Homo sapiens: one gene and its partner. The protein of the gene in region 1 interacts with the protein of each later gene in a pairwise test. Each region holds a gene or a part of one and is shown in the gene's direction. Other genes may lie near its edges.

What was found.
Region 2: the proteins of POLK (region 1) and TRAIP interact in a two-hybrid assay, tested with the Homo sapiens proteins (one study listed by BioGRID).

What each region holds. Positions count from the first base shown.
Region 1 is NC_000005.10:75,577,874-75,581,628, forward strand, and holds part of POLK (DNA polymerase kappa), read left to right. Parts: intron 1-2,682; coding exon of another isoform or gene 2,683-2,724; intron 2,725-3,335; coding exon 3,336-3,575; intron 3,576-3,755. UniProt on the Homo sapiens protein: DNA polymerase specifically involved in DNA repair. Plays an important role in translesion synthesis, where the normal high-fidelity DNA polymerases cannot proceed and DNA synthesis stalls.
Region 2 is NC_000003.12:49,849,959-49,853,713, reverse strand, and holds part of TRAIP (E3 ubiquitin-protein ligase TRAIP), read left to right. Parts: intron 1-3,755. UniProt on the Homo sapiens protein: E3 ubiquitin ligase required to protect genome stability in response to replication stress.

The sequences.
Region 1 (3,755 bases):
TAGGAGCATTAAACAATAATCATCATTTCTCGACACAGGCACAGAGCAAAAGGTTTTCCTTATTTGGTGTAACTTTATTGTTTGAGGATGTGGAACATAAAGCCTGATGTCACTTTGTATAAAATCTTACTTTATTAATTCCTTACTTTCACAAGAGAATGGGGGAAAATCATTAAATAATTATGTCAAAGCATCCCCTGAGGGCCTCCCATAACAATTACTTGCATGATGTGTTTTAAAAGCTTTACATTGGGATTAAAGTAAATGTTTTCATTTTCTACTAATTTTTTTCTTTTTTTTGAGATAGGGTCTCACTGTGTTGCCCAGGCTGGAGTGCAGTGGTGCAGTCTCAGCTCACTGCAACCTCCGCCTCCTGGGTTCAAGCAGTTCTCCTGCCTTAGACTCCCAAGTATCTGGGATTAGAGGCGCGTGCCACCACACCCGACTAATTTTTTGTATTTTTAGTAGAGGTGGGGTTTCACCATGTTGGCCAGGCTGGTCTCAAACTCCTGACCTCAGGTGATCTGCCCGCCTCGGCCTTCCAAAGTGCTGGGATTACAGGCATGAGCCACCACGCCCAGCCTACTAATGTTCTTTTCATTTATTATAATGTCCAAACTCACTATGAATATGTGAATTTTTAATATCTATTGCTTTTAACATATTTACTTGTATATTGCCCTCTTCGTGTATTTTCATATTCTTAAACAATTGGAATAGTTAAACTTTTCTTCTCATGTGTAAATACCTGTGGGCTGGACTTTCAGGCGTGTCTCACCTCACATCATGCCATGGGAAATTGTCAATAGTGCATTGGAACTGTGGAAGGCAATTGATATATCTTCCTCTAAAGTCCAAGACATTGTTTTGCTGTTTCCCCATTTTCTAAAAGGTGTTTGTCTTTGGAAATATATTGCTAACTACCATCTCTACATACAAATAAAATAATAATTTTTTAAATGTTTACTCTCCCATGTAAATCTGGATGGTGAGTGCCAGATAATATAAGAAACTGAAATACCATACACTTTTTAGCACTTGTCTTCCAAATGAAATGCTTTAATCCTAGTGTTACATTCTGATTACCTTAGTTATGGGGATTATAAAGATGTTTCTGTCACAAAGCAAATAAGAAACTACTTCAGCTCTTAGTTACACAGCCAGGCCTCACAAAAAAGTAGAAAGTAGTTCAGATTGAAAAGGTACCTGAACATTCTGCAGCAGCTCTGATAATGTGTGAGAAGGCAGCATTCTTCACTTCCTGCTGTATAGTTCTGCTCTCACAGTGGCTCACCTGAGGGCAGGGTGGTAGAGGCATGAGGTACAAAACATGGCATAAAAAACTCTGCAGAACGGGTTTATGAATGTGGCAGATAACTTACTTGGTTTGCAGTTTTTCTGTAGCTTTCTTTACCGTGACTTCTACCCATCCAGATGGGGAAAAGGGCTCCAGGTAGATACCATTTCAATTGTTTCACAGTCTTTATTTTTTTTTTATTTTTTTTTATTTTTTTGAGATGGAGTCTCACTCTGTCACCAAGGCTGGAGTACAGTGGCACAATCTCAGCTCACTGCAACCTCTGCCTCCTGGGTTGAAGTAATTCTCCTGCCCCAGCCTCCGGAGTAGCTGTGCGCCACCATTCCTGGCTCATTTTTGTATTTTTAGTAGAGATGGGGTTTCACCATGTTAGCCAGGCTGGTCTCGAACTCCTGACCTCAGGTGATCCTCCCACCTCAGCTTCCCAAAGTGCTGGGATTACAGACGTGAGCCACCTTGCCTGGCCTGTTTCCCCTCTGAATTGTTCTACATTTTAAAACCAGCATATTAAAAAATGACAGGAACTGAAGCACATAAATATCAGCTAATGTAAGTTTGAAAATAAGGCTTATTGGCGAGGCAAGGTGGTTCACATTTATAATCCTAGCACTTTAGGAGGCTGAGGTGGGAGGATCAGTTGAGGCCAGGAGTTTGAGACCACCCTGGGCAAGATTGTGAAACCCTATATTTACCAAAAAATTATAAAATTAGCTAAGCGTGATGGCTCGCGCCTGTAGTCCTAGCTATACTCCAGCCTGGGCAAGAGGGAGACCCTGTCTTAAAAAAAAAAAAAAAAAAAGAGAGAAAGAAAATAAGCTTATTGTGTATGTGCCCTGGGAATTCAGATTTGGAAAACATCTGACTGAATTAACATCTATGACTTACTTCACACTACATATTTTAAATTTTTAAATTAATCAGATGTCTGTCATATTTATTTTATATTATCTTTAAAATTTTTTCCTAAACAGCCAAATACATTTTTCAAGTAATATACATTCGTATGCATCTTAAAACTAGAAATTTAATTTTTTCTTCTGTATTGACCTTAATTTGGAAAATATTTATATGTAATAAAATTACGAGATGGGATCAGAAAGCTTTGTTGCTAACCTTGGTTGTTATAAATACATTTAAATTGTATTTCTTCTACATTAAGCCAAGAAAACAGGCTTTAATAGATTTGTTCATGGAGACATTTTTAGTATCAGTATAGATTTAAGAATATTTTACAGTCCATTTATGAAAAATATAAATATAAAGAGGCAATAACCAGACTGGTATTTTTACTTTACTTTGTAATAATAGTTTATAGCCTATTAATAATAACGTCTCTTTTTCTTAAACTTGGATTATCCAATCAGACCTTCAGAATTTGTATATTCAAAGAAGCATAACTTTCACAGGTAATTTCTATTTATTACAAATGTGCCCTTAGTCAAAGTGATACTTTATAAACAAGCAAATCAAAATTAAAATCAGCATTTGAAAGAAGAAAATTCAGATTATTTTAACATCTAAAAGGTTTCTTCCATAAATGAAGAAAAGTTAAGTGTTTTTCCTTCTAAAAACAAAACTTATTTTCAGTATAATTATTATATATTGTTTATTATATTCTAAATTCTAATTTTCGAAGATTCTTTTTCTTCCTAAAGAAGAATAAAGAAAAGATTTCCTTTTTTTTTTTTTAAGAAAAAGGTAATGTGAACTGAAACCTAATTCTGAATTTCAATTAATTTAGGTACGAACATTAGTGAGTTTTACATAAGATATTTCCTTTTAATATTTATACTGTGGAAATGGATAATAGTCTTTTTAAGAAAAATTCATAATCAGTGTTCTCTTTAATGGTTATAAAACATTAAATGATAAATGATGGCATTTCTGATCTTGGATCCTAGAAACTAAACTAAACTAGATTTTTGTTTTTGTCTTCAGAAATAATGTAGGGAAACCTAACTTATGAAGTATATACTTCTTAAAATAAAGGTGAGTTATTTTCCTGTTTATGACTTAGATAATCCAGGAAAGGAAGTTAATAAACTGAGTGAGCATGAACGATCCATCTCTCCACTACTTTTTGAAGAGAGTCCTTCTGATGTGCAGCCCCCAGGAGATCCTTTCCAAGTGAACTTTGAAGAACAAAACAATCCTCAAATACTCCAAAACTCAGTTGTTTTTGGAACATCAGCCCAGGAAGTGGTAAAGGAAATTCGTTTCAGAATTGAGCAGAAAACAACACTGACAGCCAGTGCAGGTATTTAAAAGAGTATTGATGGCCACTGTAGTTATAATTTTCAGACTGGCTAATTTAAGTGTAATATTAGTAGTTTCTCATTATAAAGTATATAGTAACATTTTACTTACTTAGTCTTTCATTCAACTTCTAACAACTTTACCTATTCAGAATAGCTGTGAACCTAGTAAGTAAATTGGA
Region 2 (3,755 bases), on another chromosome or scaffold:
CACTGTGCCTGGCTAATTTTTTTTGTATTTTTAGTAGAGGCAGAGTTTCACTATGTTGGCCAGACTGGTCTCAAACTCCTGACCTCGTGATCCGCCCACCTCGGCCTCCCAAAGTGCTGGGATTACAGGCGTGAGCTACCGTGCCTGGCCTATCTTGTCTAATTTAAAGTCCATTTTATCTGCTATTAGTATAGCCACTTCAGCTGTCTTTTGGTGACTGCATGGTATATCTTTTTTCATCTGTTTTATTTTATTTTATTTTATTATTGTTTTTAGAGACAAGGTCTCGCTATGTTAGCCAGGCTGGTCTCAAACTCCTGGCCTAAAGCAATCCTCCTGCCTTGGCCTTCCAAAGTGCTGGGAATACAGGTGTGAGCCACCACACTCGGCCCTTATCCAACTTCTAGCTTCCGTTGTAGCTATTGAAGTCAGATTTTAGTTTATCAGTTACTCCTTTAAGCATACTTTGGAACTTTATCCTCAGACTCTCATTACCTTTAGAATTTTCTCTGATTTTGGCTTTCTGCAGTTTTGGTATAGTGTATCCAATATGAATTTCTTTTTACCTTTTTCTTTTCTTTTTTTTTTTTTTGAGACAGAGTCTTGCTCTGTTGCCCAGGCTGGAGCACAGTGGGACAATCTCAACTCACTGCAACCTCCACCTCCCTGGTTCAAGCAATTCTCCTGCCTCAGCCTCCCGAGTAGCTGGGACTAAAGGCACGTGTCATCATGCCCGGCTAAATTTTGTACTTGTAGCAGAGACAGGGTTTCACCATGTTGGCCAGGCTGGTCTCGAACTCCTGACCTCAGGTGATCTTCCCACCTTGGTCTCCCAAAGTGCCGGGATTACAGCCATGAGCCATTGTGCCTGGCCGAATTTCTTTTTACAAATTCTGCTCGGGATTCATTAGATTTCTTTAACGTGTAGAGCAATTTCTTTCTTTCTTTCTTTTTTTTTTGAGACGGAGTCTCGCTGTGTCACCCAGGCTGGAGTGCAGTGGCACGATCTTGGCTCACTGCAAGCTCTGCCTCCCGGGTTCACGCCATTCTCCTGCCTCAGCCTCCCGAGTAGCTGGGACTACAGGCGCCTGCCACCATGCCCAGCTAATTTTTTGTATTTTTAGTAGAGATGGGGTTTCACTGTGTTAGTCAGGATGGTCTTGATCTCCTGACCTCATGATCTGCCTGCCTCGGCCTCCCAAAGTGCTGGGATTACAGGCGTGAGCCACCGCGCCTGGCCGTGTGGAGCAATTTCTTTAATCAGTTCTGGAAAATTATCAGCCATTATCTCTTCATATATTGCCTCTATTCCATTAACTTTTTTATCCTGTGTTATTATTTATTTTTGAGGTAGAGTCTCGCTCTGTCACCCAGGCTGGAGTGCAATGGTCCGATCTCGGCTCACTGCAACCTCCACCTCCTGGGTTCAAGCAATTCTCCTGCGTCAACCTCCCGAGTAGCTGGGATTACAGGCGCTCGCCACCGTGCCTGGCTAATTTTTGTATTTTTAGTAGAGACGGGGTTTCACCATGTTGGCCAGGCTGGTCTTGAACTCCTGACCTCGTGATCTGCCCGCCTCGGCCTCCCAAAGTGCTGGGATTACAGGCGTGAGCCACTGCACCTGGCCTACCTAAAGTCTTTGTGGGCATTTCTTCTGGTTTGTTTTCATAGTGCTTTTTTTTCTTGTGTACCTGTTTACTTAAAAAAATGTTTTTTTGGCTGGGCGCGGTGGCTCACAACTGTAATCCCAGCACTTTGGGAGGCCGAGGCTGGTGGATCACGAGGTCAGGAGATCGAGACCATCCTGGCTAACATGGTGAAACCCCGTCTTTACTAAAAATACAAAAAAATTAGCCGGGCATGGTGGCGGGCGCCTCTAGTCCCAGCTACTTGGAAGGCTGAGGCAGGAGAATCGCTTGAACTCAGGAGGTGGAGGTTGCAGTGAGCCGAGATTGCACCACTGCACTCCCGCCTGGGTGACAGAGCGAGACTCAGTCTTAAAAAAAAAAAAAAGTGTTTTTTTGGCTAGGCATGATGGCTCACCCCTTTAATCCCAGCACTTTGGGAGGTGGCTGGATTGCTTGAGCCCAGGGGTCCAAGACCAGTCTGGGCAACACAGTGACACCCCATCTCTACAAAAAAGTGAAAAAAATATAAATTACCTGGGCATGATGGCCTGTGCCTGCAGTCCCAACTACTTGCAAGGCTGAGGCAGGAGGATCGCTTGAGCCTGGGAGGTTGAGGCTGCAGTGACTCATGATTGTGCTGCTGCACTCCAGCCTGGATGACAGAGTGAGACCCCATTTCAAAAAAAGAACATTTTAAAATTGAAGTATAATATAGTTCAGAAAAGTACACATATTCTAAGTATATGGCTTACAGAATGTTTACAAATTGAACATATCTATGCAGCCAGAATTCAGATCAAGAAACAGGGTATGGCTGGGCGTGTTGATTCACGCCTGTGATCCCAGCACTTTGGGAGGCTGAGGTAGGCAGATTGCTTGAGCCCAGAAGTTCTAGAACAGCCTGAGCAACATGATGAAATCTCTACTAAAAACACAGAAAATTAGCCGAGCATAGTGGCATGTGCCTGTGGTCCCAGCTACCCAGGATGCTGAGGTGATCATCACCTGAGCCTGGGAGGTAGAGTCAGCTGTGAGCCATGATTGCTTTACTGCATTCCAGCCTGGGTGACAGAGTGAGACCCTGTCTCGAAAGTCCCCCCACCAAAAAAAAAAAAGAAAACAGGAAAACGCAGGCTATTGGCCGGGCATGGTGGCTCATGCCTGTAATCCCAGCATTTTGGGAGTCCGAGGCGGGTGGATCAGGAGTTTGAGAGCAGCCTGGCCAACATGGTGAAACCCTGTCTCTACTAAAAAAATATAAAAATGAGCTGGGCATGGTGGCGTGCACCCGTAACCCCAGCTACTCGGGAGGCTGAGGCAGGAGAATTGCTTGAACCTGGGAGGTGGAGGTTGCAGTGAGCCGAGATCGTGCCACTGAACTCCAGCCTGGCTGACAGAGCAAGACTCTGTCTCAAAAAAAAAAAAAAAAAAAAAATGCAGACTATTATCAGCTCTAGAAACCTTCTAGAAACCTCCTTATATGCTCTTCCAACCCCTACCAACACCTCCCTCCACCTCCCCATATTAAGATAGCTACTGTCTTGACTTTGAGAGCATAGATGAATTTTGCCTACTTTTTTTTTTTTTGAGACAGAGTCTCACTATGTCCCTCACGCTGGAGTGCAGTGGCGTGATCTCGGCTCACTGCAACCTCCACCTCCCAGGTTCAAACGATTCTTCTGCCTTAGTCTCCCAAGTAGCTGGGATTACAGGCGTGCGCCACCACACCCGGCTAATTTTTCTATTTTTAGTAGAGACGGGGTTTCACCATGTTGGTCAGGCTGGTCTCAAACTTCTGACCTGATGATCCACCCGCCTCGACCTCCCAAAGTGCTGGGATTACAGACGTGAGCCACTGGGCCTGGCCTGCCTACTTTTAAACTGTGTAAATAGAATCATACAAAATATAACTTTTTGTATCTGGCTTCTCTTCCTCAGTGTTATGTTTTTGTGATTTATTCATAATATTGTTCTTAGCTGTAGACTCATTTATTCTTGCTGTGTAGTATTCCACTGCGCCTGGTTACTCTTGATTATATGTTGTACATGGTATTTGAAAACTTATGGGAATTTTAGCTGGGCATGGTGGTGCACGCCTGTGGTCCCAGCTACTCGGGAGGCTGAGGT